Linked DNA regions of Homo sapiens: all the other regions are linked to region 3. The links come from fine-mapping of genetic effects on gene expression. A gene starts in region 3. Each other region holds a variant in brackets. All regions are shown on one strand. Distances are between the middles of the regions. Region 1 overlaps PRR5L (proline rich 5 like). Region 2 overlaps PRR5L (proline rich 5 like). Region 3 holds the start of PRR5L (proline rich 5 like).

What was found. PIP is the estimated chance that this variant, and not a neighbour inherited with it, causes the effect.
Region 1: its variant is fine-mapped to the expression of PRR5L in whole blood (TOPMed, PIP 0.98).
Region 2: its variant is fine-mapped to the expression of PRR5L in whole blood (INTERVAL, PIP above 0.99).

Annotation. Positions count from the first base shown.
Region 1 is chr11:36,454,192-36,459,414 of GRCh38, reverse strand. All of the region lies in intron 8 of PRR5L (proline rich 5 like), which reads right to left. Among named protein-coding and RNA genes, the nearest start is that of TRAF6, 53 kb to the left of the region's middle. RefSeq lists an enhancer at 3,640-4,164. The variant C/T (reference allele first, on the strand shown) is at 2,722.
Region 2 is chr11:36,405,619-36,410,841 of GRCh38, reverse strand. All of the region lies in intron 3 of PRR5L (proline rich 5 like), which reads right to left. Among named protein-coding and RNA genes, the nearest start is that of TRAF6, 100 kb to the left of the region's middle. The variant G/T (reference allele first, on the strand shown) is at 2,085.
Region 3 is chr11:36,293,929-36,299,151 of GRCh38, reverse strand. It overlaps PRR5L (proline rich 5 like), which reads right to left and starts at 2,864. Exons shown (of 9, transcript NM_001160167.2): 1 at 2,714-2,864.

The sequences.
Region 1 (5,223 bases), 160 kb before region 3:
CCCAAGAGAGGAAGCAAATCTGACAGCAGCACCCCAGCTCCCAGGGCCTCTGCTCTCCCACCTTCACATGGGCTGCGCTAGGGCAGAAACATGCACAGAGTTTGGAATAGAGTAAGCACCATGACAAGGCTGGGTCCCTTGGTCCCAGAGAAGTCCCCCAACTCATGCTCCTCTTGAGGCAGTGCTGCCTCCTCTGCCACCTAGGCCTGGTATCATGTCACGAGCTGAGCGGCTCTGGACCTGAGAGAGGCAGAGGCGTGGGATGGTCCAGCCACTGCAACCGGTCTGGCCTGGGAGAGAGTAAATTTGAAGGCACGGCCATGGGAGAAACACAGCTTCAAAGGGCTGGGGGATGGGTGGATTCTGTTCTGGGCCTCCTCTTCTTTTCAGCCTCCTTTTCTGCCAGAGCACACCTCTTCCCAGCTTCCCAGTCACATACACCATTTCACCTGTCTCTGCCTTCCACAGTGCCCATATCTCTGACACCCTGAAGACCCAAGAGAAAGGTGTTCCCTCTGCCAGCCAGGCAGGACAATGCTGTGGGGAGAAAGGGAGTGGGGCCCAATGGTATCAGTATTTCCACCACACTTGGACAGGAGGGGGAACACCCCACTTTCCAAGAGGAAAGCAAACCATGCTGTTCACAGACTGGCCCATGGGGACACGTGGCTCATGCTGCTTTAGTTTACTCTCTGCTCTTCCAGTGGATCTGGAGGGCCCTAGACACGTGTGTCAGCCACTTCTAGAGCCAATGCTCCTGGAAGGAGATCACAGCAAGACCTGCCTACATCCATCTGCAAAGCTCACAGCAGCTCCCGTCATCGGACTGTTGTGTGTGTGTATAAATAATGAAGAGAATGAAATTCTAAACCTTTGGACTAAATCTTGAGTCTACTGGCTCAGAAGCCCAAGGGGCCTATTTGGTGGTGACAATAACAATTTTTCAAAATCAAAGGATATTACATAGAATTTAGAGTGTAGAGTGTGTTCCCACCCATGATCTCGCTGTTTAGTCCCAATCTCCCTCCAAAACAGAGTTGTTCTTAGTATGCCCACTGCACAGATGAGGAAGACTGAGGCTCAGCCCCGTTTCTCTTGGGTTCTAGATGGCAGTGCCCAGACTTTCCCCACTACACGCTGCTGTGTCTCAGGTGACTGCTGCTGCCCTCAGAAGACATGTTCCTTGAAGCAGCCCACCCACTGAAGTCAAGTAATAGCAAACACTGCCCCCCAGCAGATGCTACACAAGAAGCTGACACTGGCGCCCCTCTTTGGAGATAAGAGACAAAACGCCAAGGAGCAACCAAGAATACACCAGGCATTGGCAGCGGTTCTTTCTGAAGCATGGATGCTCGTACTCTCCAAGTTACACATTTCTATAATGTTCCCACATTCTTATAATACCTGTATTACTTTTATGATCTCCAAAATCAATAACTATAAAACAGAAGCACCAGAAGAGTTCAGAGCAGCAAGGATCCCATTGAAAAACTGTCCTTAAAAAAAATGCCCTTGAGAACAATTCATTTCTCTCTCACTGCTGATAGAAGTACACACTTCAGATTGCTGTTGGGAAACCCATGTGGGGACCTGAACCCTACAACCAGTCTAGCAGGAGACAGGACGAGACCTGTTTAGGGAGCATTTGCTTCATGCAGATGTCTGGGCCTCTGAGACTGGGTACCTACCTGCCAGGAGGGGTTTGTGCAAAGGGGAGGGTCAAAGAGGTAGACAGTAGTGACATTATTTCTAATGTTGCTAGAGATTTCGATGTTTTGTTTTGTTTTTTGTTTTGTTTTTTTTTTTTTTGAGACGGAGTCTCACTCTGTTGCCCAGGCTGGAGTGCAGTGGCGCGAACTTGGCTCACTACAAGCGCTGCCTACTGGGTTCACGCCATTCTCCTGCCTCAGCCTCCAGAGTAGCTGGGACTACAGGTGCCCACCACCACACCCAGCTAATTTTTTGTATTTTTAGCAGAGACAGGGTTTCACCGTGTTAGCCAGGATGGTCTCGAATTCCTGACCTCATGATCTGCCTGCCTTGGCCTCCCAAAGTGCTGGGATTACAGGCATGAGCCACTGTGCCCGGCCTCGATAATGTTTTATAAGAGTATGGGAGACTCCTCTCTTTGGGGAAGGGGTATCTGGAAAGATACAGTATTAATGTTAGATTTTATAACATGGCTGAAACTTGGAAGAAAGGCTGGGACCAGAGAAGACAGAGGGTAAATCGAGAGAACAGGAAATCAACTTGCTTGGCAGACACATGCAGCATCTTTGTAGGAAATGAGAATTCGTCAGATGATTTCCGCAGGTCCCAGCCCACTGGGATGAGCCAGGGAAAGGTGTCTCCAGTGATCCTTGGAGGGCCCAGGCAGCAAATGGACAAGAGAAGCCACTCTGGCTGCTCACAGGCCAAGAGCTGGAGCCAGAGGGGGGCTGCCCTGGAGGAGGAGACCACAACACCACCTGTCCCCACCTTCAACAAACACTACTACCTGTACATGCAAAATGCTGCACTAGCTGCAGAGAAGAAAAGAAACATAAATCTGATGTGGGGCCCCCAACAGGGGCTTGAGCCCAGCACACTTGTGTACCTCCATGCATGTATGTTCACATGTCAGGGGCACGAGTTCTTAGGAGGAACTATTTACTAAGCATCCATGATATGCTAGGTACTGTACCAAAAAGGAGGTGCTCCACTGATGGCTTCTAACCACTT[C/T]GCAGAAGAACCTGAAGTTGAGATGTGGAATAACAACAGTCATAGTTAGTGATGAAACCAGGACTCAAACCCAGAGCTGACAGCACAGGCCCAGCTTGTGACCCACATACACAAATAACTGTTAGAACAGGTCAGTGTGGCAAATGTCAGGTCAGAGATAGAGACGACAGCACCCTGGAAATTCAGAGGAGAAGGAAGAGAAGTCACAAAGCCTATTTCAGATGGGCTGTGCTTCTCTAGGCTTGACTTACAGACTGAACCACTCACTCACAGGAGAGGTCTGTGCCAGGTCCTGGGATACAAAATCCCTGCTCTCAACGAGCAAGCTCAGTGTAAGGGAGAGGCTGAGAAATAGGACATGGCAATACAGCAAGGCAAGGCCAAGGATGTGGTTTGGGATCCAGGGGAGGGATTGGGGAGGTACACACAACCTCCCCGGGGAGTGATTCCACGGACGCCAGGCCACCTTTAGCTGGGCGTCCATAACATAGCAGGCAGCTCTACCTGGCCCTTACCTGAGACAGGGCAGCTTCTTCCTCCTGCTGATCCTGAATGGAAGGACAGGGCCTCTGTGCTCAGCCCTCTGTGGCTCAGAAGTTGCTCCAGGCCACACAGCTGAGCCCCAGCTCTCGTGGTTTCCAAGGCCCTGCTCTCTCCACAGCTGCCTCAGCCTCTCTCCCCCTGCTGATGACTCACAGGAGAGGCTACAGCTCTTCCTTCTACTTTCTGGGTGGAATGTTTTCATTCCCAAGATTGGGTGTGGGCAGAGCCAGGACCACAGGGACCGCAAGGCTGTGTTGAGTCCCCCGGGCAGACAGCGTTTCCTTGCTAAGTTCCCGCCAGACTCCAGAGCCAAGCCTCAGACAAGTGCGTCAGCTGTGTCCCCACTGGGAGGTCAGGCCTGCTGGGCCCCTTGGGAGGCCTTAAAACTGAACGCCAGGCCCGGGGCTGGCAGACAGCGACCGACACTCTTGCTTCTTGTTCTCCTCCCCAATCTTTTTCTTCTCTGCTCCCGGGAAGGCAGGGCCCTGTCACCCAGGGAAGGGAATCTCCCACTAAGGGACTGATTACCCTGTGGGTACCCCCTGGGGCTCCAAACCAGCCCTTCCCTTGCAGTGGTGCCCTTTTAGCGGGAAGAGGGCCGGGTCCTGCCATTTCAGCTGGCATCTCCAGGCCACCTCTGCCTCCTCCTCTTCCCTTTCACACGGGGTGAGGCCAAGGGGAGGCTTTATTCCCTCCTCACTCACCAGGAGCCCTGCTGAACACTGGCATTCACTGGCATTCATCCCCTGCACCGGAGCCAGCAAGAGCAGCTCCTTTCAAACCCCCAGAGAGATGCAAAGCCTGGATAAGGCCGTCCTCGGGTCCTTTGTTGGGGACTTGGTTCCCAGGCTTTTGATCTCCCAGGCTCCCTGGCCAGGCCCCACCGGAGCGACCGCCATAATAAGGCCATTGTGACCCCAGCACACCAAGCCCGTGGTGGGTGTCCCTCTCCAGGCTGGCACCTGAAAGCCGTGAATGCTGGCTTGTCACGCAGAGAAGCTACAGTATCCTGAAGGAGAAGGGCCCTCCCCCAGGCAGACACAATGGAGGGAGGCCTGTGGGAGGCCAGGGCCTTTGTGTGGGAGAAGTCGAGCGTGCTGCTGAGTGTGTGCTCGGGAGGGCCCTGCAAACATCAGGGAAACAGCCTGGAGACTTCGGGGACTTGAAAGATGGGGCAAAGGCCAGCCTCTGAGGAGTCGGCCTTTTAAAAAAAAGTTTCACTATCCTCTTCCTCCTCCCTCAGCAACTCCCACTGTTGCAGAAAAGTGGCTGCTTTGGAGAGAGCGGCACGTTCTCTCTCACTCTCATCGTGGGCCTCTGACCTATGCGTACCCAGGGGTGAGGCCTGGCTGGCAGGAAGGGACACCTCCGGAGAATCCTCGTGCAGTCAAACACAGGCGCGGGCGCGTGGGTGCAGTGCGGAGCCCCGGGAATAAACCGCTTCTCTGGCTCTGGTCACCTACCCTGCGGGTGACCTGGAGACTGAAAGCACAACAGTACCTTGGAGGATGGAATGAGTTACGCGCCAAAACCCTGGTCAGTAATCCAGCGTGAGTGGTGGCTTCTGAAGGGATGAGTGGCCCCCACACCCTCCGCTGCCTACGACCACGCCTACCTATCCTCCGGCCCAAGTGAGCCACGGCAAAGCCCTCCCATAGGTAAAGGGGTTTATCACCCCCAACCCAACTCCTTAGTTTTTACTTCAGCCAGCGATCTCAATGCTCTCCTCCCACAGGCAAAATAAACCTTTTACTAAGGGGTAGACGGAGGCCCTGAGAGACCTCTCTTTATCTGGAAAGCAGTGTCCTCAGTCAGGATGGGCACTGCTGTGACCATTTTAGCTTCTTAGTATCCAGAGACATGGGGTGAAATGTCTGGCTTAGGATCCCTCTTGGGCTAAGGAACACCTCCTGGGCTGTCCCCTAATAAAGTCACCTCCTCAAAGTTAGCAGCGGTCAG
Region 2 (5,223 bases), 110 kb before region 3:
CCCACCTCACTTCTGCAATAGGATATGTTTCAAGGAGGCAGCTTCTCTTAAGCAGGAACAGATAGAAAGGCCCCCTCCCCTTCTCTGGTCCATTCCATGGGAGCCCATGGGAGGTGGTGTCCTTGACTCAGGACATGGAGTACTCACACCCTTCGGGTGTCGGCATCCTAGTGGGTGGCAGTGGGAATAGTGAGAAACATGGAGGAAACTGACGAAGAGCATTTATTGAGCTCCTAGTTATGTGGCACACTATGCTCGGCAGTCTGCACACAGAATCTCAAATTCTCCAACAGCCTCACAGGTAGGAGTGTATCCTCATTTTGCAGATAAGATCGATGCTCAGAGCTTTGCCAGGGGCCATACATTGGTAGATCCCAACTCAAATGGAGGCCAACCTAATCAGGCAGTGGTACCCCCCATGCCACAGGGGCAGGCAGGCAAAGAAGGGAGGCAAGTGAGTGTGTACTGTAAGGACCAAGAAAGTCCCTCTAAAGCCAGCAGCCAGGCCTCAGCTCCCCTGACAGGCTCCACACCAGACCGTGAGTCCAGTGCCCAGATCTGACCTTTCCAGAGAGGCCGGAAACCTGGAGTTCTAGGTGAGATGTCCAGATTTCTAAACAACTTTTAGGCCAAACCACATGCGCCAACCCCATGGGTTTCCAATCTGCCATTTCTAACAACCCTTCTTAACCTGAAAGCCAAGTCTGTTTCTCAGCCACAGCAGGTACAAGGTAGTAACACATCATCAGGCAGAGTCACCCAGACCAAGAAGAGCCCTCATCTTAATCCCTCCAAAACTAGGCTCCTCAGAAGGGCAATGCCCCCCTTACCTCATGATCTATTCATGAACCTATGTCCAGGTACATCAAGCCCAAATCTGGATAATGCCAGCTCTGTGTGGCTCTTGCAGCCCACTTACTAAGGGTTTAAGCATGTGGGAGGCTTGGGTTCAAATCCCAGCTCAGGCACTTACTGGCTACATGACTCTGGGTGAGTTATTCCACCTCTCTGTATCTGTACTTCCTCCTTGTAAGACAGGGATACAGTATCTATCTCACAGGGTGTGGGGAGTTTTAAAAGAGTTGACACATATGAAGCACTTGGAACCTGGCATATACTAAAAGGCTAAGCAAGTGTCTGCAGTTATCATTACCTCGTGGCATCAGGCCTGGGACTGGTCTATGGCATCAGCCTGTGAGCTGGATCCAGGCTCACCTTCCTCCCGTCCCCTCCCAGCTCTTCCCCCCTACTGTGGGTCCCCCTCTCTTACAGTCAACACTCTGTTAAAGAGATGGAAAAATCGGAGGTGGATTTCCCTTTGGGTTTCAGGCAACCAACTGACTCAGAAGGAAGATATTTCAACTCAGACCTGTCAGAGATCAAACACAATTCTTGGAACCTCCTCTTTCCTTGAAAATCTCTGGGGTTTTCTTCACACCACCTCCCCCCTCCCAACAAGAACAGAAGCAGGGTGGTTGGAGAGAGAAGGAAAATGTGCGTTTCCTGTCTCAGGCCGGCTGCAGATAACTGATCTCTGGTTTCCGGAAACTTCATCTCTGAGCATTTATTTCTGCCGAGAAAAAGTCCTCCCAGGGAGTTTGAGGAGGCAGGAGGGCATGGAGTGAGTGGTGGTGGCAAGAACGTTAGATCCTCAACTGCCCTTTCTGCCTGCTCCCACTTCTGATTTCAACTTGGATATCATTTTCTCCTAGGTCTAATTGTGTGCCCATCCTCCACATGCCCCCAGCACTCCAGATTCCACCATCACCCCTCTAAAAGCGTTGCCTGAGAACTACCTGCCCAGTTCCTCTCTCATTCTGCTGTAAGATCTCCAAGACACAAACCACCTACTCAATGACCACCCCAGTATACAGCCCAGTACTGGGCAGAGCACTCCACATTTATTCAATAAATAAATCAATGAATCAATGGCCCCTGCTTCGACACACACACCCCAACACTCAAAGACTGAAAGCACTTATAAGAACATTGGCAAGCAGGTTCTTCAAAGAACCAGCAAACATCAGTCTTGCTTTTTTCACACTTTTCTAATTCTTCTCGGTTACATAAAATCAGTGGGAGAG[G/T]TGGCAGAAAAGACTGTTTAGGGAGAGTGTGCTCTTGTGTCAGCTTAGCTGCTCTTGTTCTTGGAAGGGCTCATGAAACCCAAACCTCTAACCCAGACTTTTCCTCGCTGCCAAAATGCAGCCACATCAGGGGTGAGGCTGGAGAGGGGTGTTAAAAACCGCACTAACACCCCATTGAGAATTCAAAACAAGAAGACTCCCAGAATCAGCCCGAACTCTGGCAGATGGAAATTTAGGGAAGCCAGAATTGTTGATTGGGATGCCTGGGGATTTAGCTAGAATACGTCTATTCTGAAAGGTCATTTTCTTGCCTTGAGAGATATTACAATGTGCAAGCTGTGCCTAAGGCAGTTTCAATGGGAAATATTCTGATTTATGGTTTTCATATCAATAGACCATGTGCCCTGACTTTTACATGGGACAACATTGGCCGCTATATTGAGGTGAGACGTTTCTGATGGATTTTTTTTTTTTTTGAGACAAATTCTCTCTCTGTCCCCCAGGCTGGAGTGCAGTGTGGCACGATCTTGGCTCACTGCAACCTCTGTCTCCCAGGTTCAAGCGATTCTCCTGCCTCAGCCTCCCAAAAATAGCTGGCTGGGATTACAGGCGCACACCACCACACCTGGCTAATTTTTGTATTTTTAGTAGAGTCAGGGTTTTGCCATGCTGGCCAGGCTGGTCTCAAACTCCTGACCTCAGGTGATCCACCTGCCTTGGCCTCTCAAAGTTCTGGGACTACGGGGTGAGCCACCGCACCTGGCCTGACAGATTTATTCTTAAAGGGTGGAGAAACCTGTCTTTGGATCCAATACTGTGTTTTAGAATTTGACCATCCTCAGTCCCAAGTTCTTCCTCATAATTACTTCAAAGTCTATCTGCTAACATTTAAACTAGAGTCTATTTTCAAAGACATGTCTTAAATGGAAAGGCCACTTATAATAATGACTGCATTACAAGACTCAGTTACATAAAACATCTACCTTCCTAGTCATCCTTTGCATTGGCTACTATTTAAATAAATTTGTATTTCCCAGGTACATACTAACCCTACAGATAGAAAGTGGCCAGGGTGGCTGGGATGAGTGACCCAAAGAATCTGATTTAGGCTTTGACTCCAGACTTGGATACTCCATCAAAAAGTTTATTACCATTTGGGTTCAGTAGAATGGAGAACTGAAAAAGTCATTTCCTCTTGTTCTTTTCTCTGTGGAAAGGAGAAACAGCTGGCTCTCCTTGTAAGAACTTAGCCTCACCCAAACTTCAACTCCAGGCACCACTCTTTGAGGATTCTGTCCCAGACTCTCTAGTTCAAAGTGAGCTCACCTCATCCAAACTGCTGGAGAAGTTTTTTCTGAGACAGGATCTTGCTCTGTTGCCCAGGCTGGAGTGCAGTATGCATCATCACGCCCAGCTTTTCATTTTATTTGTATTTTTTGTAGAAACTGGGGTTTCATTAAAGCTGGTCTCAAACACTTGGACTCAAGCGATCCTCCTGCCTCAGCCTCCCAAAGAGCTGGGATTACAGGTGGGAGCATGACACCTGGCCTGGAGAGGGTTATACACAGCACTATTCATGGGGCAATTCATCACGTTGGCCTGTGTTCTCATGCCTCGTACTCACCCATTATGTATCACTTTACTATTTCTTAACTGTTCACAGTAATAAGAATCATATGGCTAATATTTATTAAACCTTTATTAAATTACCAGACCCTGTGCTAAGGATGCTTTTAGCATTATCTCAATCCTCCCAATGACCATGAGGTTAGTGCTATTATTATCCTCATTTCATAAAAGACAAAACAGACTTAGAAAAATGAAGTCACTTGCCCAAGGTCACACAGCTAGCCCAGTCTTGATCCCTGGTCTCTCTGAATCCAGAAACTGCTCTCTTTGGTTAAAAATTTCCATTAAACTTAGCACAAACCCTCTTGCATATAACAGGACTGTCACAACTGAAAAATGGGCTGAAGAACTGAGGCTTCTCTGTTTGCACATCTCTTTCTGACATCCCTACCATCCTGTGCCCCACCCTCTCCACCAATCCTGCCTCAACCATGTTGAGTTGATAGATCTGTTCTGCAAACAAGTCTTCCAAAAGGAAAATCAAAACCCAAGTGTCTACTTGAATGTAACCAGAGAGCAGCCTATTTCAGTGTTTAAGATGCTGGAATAAAGGCAGCTGTGTTTACCTCCACACAGGCACTTGCTGATGTGGGAGGGCTAGCTTCATTCAACTTGAGACATCCAGGTCACGTCAATGCCTGGGAGATACTTCACATCTTCAGTTATATTCTGTGTCTCTGATGTGAAAGCCTATCTCCATCCTCTGGCCTTCTCTAAAATAGTGTGGCTAGAATGTAAGGTACAGAAACATGGGGAAGGAAAGCTCTGATTTTTTTTTTAAGCTTTGGCTTATTCTGGGCTCAATTTATATCTGGGCACATAGTTTCAAACCTCAACCATATGTATTTCCCACTAGTCTGAAAAATCAGTCAAGACACAGAGGAACATCTAGCAGCCCTAACCCCAACACTGGAAAGGAGGGCTGGGGGAGTGTCATGCTCCTCATGATGAGTGTTAGTCACAGGATGTGATAAGAGATGGGCTCACAGAGACCTCGGGAAAGGAACGATGGCAAAAAAAAAAAGATCAGGAACCATCAACTTAATCCTTCTCCCAACATAAGACCTCTCTTTCTGACACTACAATATAGTGCAAAGAACAAAGGTGTTGCTATGAGTCCCCCCAAAATTTATATGTCAAAGCCTTAACCCCCAATTTGATGGGATTTGGAGATGGGCCTTTGAGAGATACTTGGGTTTAGATGAGGTCATAAGAGTAGGGCCCACATGATTAGTGTCCTTATAAGGGACATCAGAGAGCTCTCTCTCCCCATCAAGTACAAAAGAGGTCATGTGTACACACAGTACACATCTTCCAGTCGGGAAGAGGGCCATCACCAGGAATGTAAATGACCGGCACCTTGATCTTGGACTTCCCAGCCTCCAGGACATTGAGAAATAAATTTTTGTTGTTTAAGTCATCCAGTCTATGGTATTTGTTATGGCAGCCCCGGTAGACTACTACAGGTATCTAAGTCAGAAAGGAGTTCAAATCCTTTTGCCACTGCTCA
Region 3 (5,223 bases):
CTGGGATGTGTAGGTCCTTCTGACAAGGACCACCAGGAGGAATGGAAATTTACCTTCAGAGAAAAGCTGACAGCACTTGTTGTGGCCTCAACTATCCTCCCAAAATTTATATGATGAAGCCCTAACCCCCAGGACCTTAGAATGTGACTGCATTTAGAAGCAGGACCTTTAAAAATGTGATTAAGTTAAAATGAACCCCTTAGGGTAGGCCTTAATCCTCTCTGACTGCTGTCCTTATAAGAAGAGGACATTTGCACATGCCAAGAGACACCAGGAATGCACACACAGAGGAAAGACCATGTGAGAACTCAGTGAGAAGGTGGCCATCCACAAGCCAAGGACAGAGACCTCAGGAGAAAACAAACCTTCCAACACCTTGATCTTGGACTTTTAACCTCCAGAACTGGGAGAAAATTAAGTTCTGTTGTTTAAGCCCGGGGCCCCCAACTCCCGGGCCATGGACCAGTACTGGTCTGTGGTCTGTTAGGAACCAGGCCACACAGCAGGGACAGAGAGAGCACGAAGCTTCATCCATATTTACAGCTGCTCCCAATCATTCACATTACCACCTGAGCTCCACCTCCTGTCAGATCAGCAGCAGCATTAGATTCTCATAGGAGCACAAACCCTATTGTGAACTGCGCATGTGAGGGGTCTAGTTTGCATGCTCCTTATGAGAATCTAATGCCTGATGATCTGTCACTGGTTCCCATCACCCCCATATGGGACTGTCTAATTGGAGGAAAACAAGTTTAGGGCTCCCACTGATTCTACACTGTGGTGAATTGTGTAATTATTTCATTATATATTACAATGTAATAATAATATAAATAAGGTTCTCAATAAATGTAATGCACTTGAATCATCCTGAAACCATCCCTACCCTGGTCTGTGGAAAAAAGTGTCATCTACAAAACTGGTCTCTGGTACCAAAAAAATTGGGGACTGCTGGTTTAAGCCCCTCAGTCTGTGATATTTTGTCATGGCAGTCCCAGCAAACTAATACGGCACTGCTTAGATGCCAGGGAACTAAGGAAGGAGTCTTATTAGGCAACCAGCTTCAAGGGACCAGCAACTCAGAGATCCCCAAAGATGAGAAATAATGGTGCTCTCTGAAGTATCCACAAGATTGTGCCTAGAGAGAAAGAACTAGGTTTACACACCCACCAGAACCTGCCACTGAAATGCCAGCTTGCCACAGCATTAACCAAGTACGGACTTCCAGCTCCTTTCCTGCCTCTTCTCTTTTCCCCTTCCCCCTGCCAGGAGTCAGAATCATCAGTAAGCCAGAGGAGAGAAGGATGGAAGCTTAACGTGGGAAATGAGAAGCCAACCACAGACCCCCTTTCCAAGCTGCAGGCCCCACTGGAGGAGGGAGAAAAGTCTCCACTGGGAACCAAATTCAAAGATCTGGCTGATTCCCTGGGACTGGACATCCCAATTGCTGAATGAGGCTGTGCTGGAACTAAAAGCGACTTAAGAACTTTTGATTCCTGAAGGGGGCCCATAAGAGTTGTGGACCTACCTTAATTTTCATCCCAGGGCAAGGGAAGAGGGAGGACCTGCTGAAAAAAATTAGGGACAATGATAGGCAAAAATAAAGTTTGCTTCCATAATATACCATGAGTCCTGTGTATTTGACGTATGTTCTCTTACATATGAGGCAACTTAGCCTGGTCTCTGGCCAAAAAAGAGATACCACTCATTGAGCAATTCTTACCCTTTCAAATTCCTTCACTGTCGTCATTGAGCAATTCCATCTTCTTCAAGCAAGACAAAAGCTGATGCCAATAGAAAAATCATTTAAAATAAACAAACGAAAAAATTCCTTAAGCTGTCAACTTGGGTGCAGATGTTCTATGAAGCCAGAAACTGAATGTCACCCTCTATACACCATGACCTAGAGAAGCAGAATAACTCCAGACCAGCAGGGCTGGGCGGGTCTAAGATTCCCATACTACTTAAGAGAAAACTGAATTCAAATCCAGGCTCTGCCATTTAACAACTGTGTGACCCCGGGTGAATGACTTAAATTATCCGTACTTCAATTTCCTCATCCATAAAATAGAGATCATAAAGTATCTATCTGATGAAATAGCTGCAAAACAGTTAGAATGCTGCCTGGCACAGGGCAAAGGACTCACAATACACATAGCTATCATCATATATCATTGCCTCTCAAAGTGAAATATTGTGATGACCTTGGTTTATTAGCAGGATGTTGTAAAAAAAAATGCTTTACAAGGGGCATGATGACGAAAAGCGCAGATTCTAGAACCCGACTCCCTGGGTTTGAAAGAAGCAAGAATCTGAGGCATGTTGTATAAGGGTTTGCTATCATTACTATTCATTCAATGAGAGACATACAGTAATAGGTATACATATGCAATACATAGAGAAAGAGCTTAGTACTAGCAGCTATTATTAAGGCAACAGCCACCTCAGTAAATCTACATGGGCCATGAAGACCCTGGTCACCCAGAGATATCAGAGGCACTGAACAGGGCCAGACAGACAGAGGGTATTTTTCTAACTGGGAGGCTGCTGAACTTGACCTCTGTTGCTTTTCATTATTTATTTAACAGCAGATGGTGGCTTTCAAGAAAATCGGATGTCTTGAAGCCAGAAACCCATCCTCCTTGGGCTGGATACTCAGCCATCCCCTGCAACCCCACCCCCTAGCCCCAAGCTCTCATTGTCTCTCTTGTGTTACCTGGTCTGGTTTCTTCTTCCAGGGCAGGTCCCACCTTGCTGGGGAGAGGTGAATGACCATGGCCTTCCAGCCTCCCGAGAAGGGGATGTTCCAACGGGCGCAGAGATCTCTGGGCCTGGCTTGCCACTCACTGACCTGGGGCCTGAAGACTGACAGAGAAGCAGGCAGAAAATATAAAAAGCTGATACCCCCTGCAGGAAATCATTGTTTAGCCCATTCCAGACTAAAAAAACAAGTGCAACATTGGAGAAAGGAGGGTAAAGTGTCATTCGGGGCCATTGTTACAGCGGCTGCTCTGTGTGGTGGGGAAACAAAGCAGGCCTGTGTATGTGAGGACAATGCTGTTGTGTTACTAGCTGCTTCTGTGTTACTCCTGGGGACAGGAGGATGAGAAACGAGGCCACAGTGTCTTCCCTGGTGGACTTCACTCATCATAGTAGCCAGGCCAATCAGAGCTGGGAGAGGAATTTTGGACATTTAGCCCATGGCATTATGTAATAAGGGTCAGGGGACGTGCCTTCAGGTGTGACCACCTGCCTCTTTGTTAGTCTTCTATACATGAGAGATCACAAATGTCCCTCTCCTTTTCTCTTACTTGCTTTCAGAAACTTACCCCAAGTTAGAGCTGAAAAGAATGAGACATATCATTTCTCTAAACACAAATGTCATCCACTTCAATGCCTAACTTTTGTGATGGGACATCTGGCTGGGACTAAACCTCAGCCATGCAGCACGTTAGCAGCAGTTGGCAAGACTAGATGAATATTATAAAGCTTGCACCCACTGAACCCCCATAATGAACCAGACACTAGGTCATGAGCAACCTTGCAAAATGACCTCATTCGCTCCTGACTTCAAATTCTGACTCTGCAACTATTACCCATGGACTGTGAGCAAGTGTTTTCTCTGGGTGTTAGTTTTCCCATCTGTAAACCGGGATTATGATTGGGTTCCTAGGAGGATTAAATGAATTAATATATGCAAAACTCTTAGAACAGTGGCTGGCCCATAAAAGTGATCAAGAACCACAAATCACAAATTAGATGCCCACATTACACCTGAAACTTGCTTGTACTCATGAGGAGATGGTATGGGGATGGCTGGAAAGCCAGGATCCCAAGTGTCTGTATTTAGCCCTGTTACCTACTATGGCCTAAGTTCACCCTGTTAGGTCCCTGAAGGAATTGGGCACTAATAAATATTCTCAAGTATGAGACAGGTGACAAATGTGTGGAGAGGGCCCACTGTGATGCAACAGTGTGTGGCGGGAACTGTGGGGATTTGAAAGCTCACACCAGTCTTCAGAGGGCAGCCAGGGCTCAGCCTCAGCCAAATACTGCAATGCAGAAAGGTGGAAACAGCATGGTTGGGCCTGCACATTTTTAAAGAAAAGCCAGAAGGCTGGATTTTTTATGTCGAGTTTTCCAATTTTGAAACACTGTGGACCAAACACAACATTGTTAATGCAATGTGAGCCCTAGATCATGCAGTTTGTGATGCCTGATCTGGAAATTTCCAGATTTCCAGCATTTCCAAGCCAGTGCAACCCTGCTGACACTCAGAGCTTTTGTCCCCAACTTGCGCTACGGTCTGAGTGTATGCGTCCCCCACAAATTCATATGCTGAAATCTTCACCCCCAGGTGATGGTATTTGGAGGTGGGACCTATGGGGGGTGATTAGGTCATGAGTGTGGAGCCCTCATGAATGGGATTAGTGCCCTTATAAAGAGGCCCAAGAGAGCTCCCTTGCCCACAGCCACCATTTGAGGACACAGTGAGAAGACACCATCTGTGAACCAGGAAACCGTCCTCATCAAACATAGAATCTGCCAATGCCTTGGTCTTGGACTTCCCAGCCTCCAGAACTATGAGCAACACATTTCTGTTGTTGATAAAGCCACCCAGTTTATGGTATTTTGTTATATTAGCCCATATGGACTAAGACGACTGGTGAGCTGATCAGGCCACGTCAAAGCCACAAAGGGGGCATAAAGTCAAAAAGATTGATCAGCCCTTTCCCCCTGCAACCCACCCTCATCTCTGGACTGAGACAAAGGTGAGGAAAAGGGAAACTAGGGGAATAACAGGAGGGTGGCAAGGGCTCTCCTTAAAGGACTGCAGGACCCTGGGCCTAATCCACCTCCTGCAGGCATTCCTCTGACAAAGAAGGCAGCCAGGACTTAGTAGTGAAACCAAAGGGGAGAATAGGAGTTTATTTAAGCTTCCATAACCTTCATCAGTTACCTCAAATGAACCAAAGTAGCGTAAGTGACAAAATGTGTTTGCTATGCAAATGCACCTTAAAAACAAGACTGCTCACAATGAGATACCACTTCATACCCGCTAAGATTGCTATAATCAAAAAGACAGAACCAGTTACAAAATGTGTTTGATATACCAATGCAACTTCAAAACAAGACGGCTCACAATGAGATACTACTTCATACCCACTAGGATCACTATAATCAAAAAGGCAGAGCCAGATGCAGTGGCTCCCATCTGTAATCCCA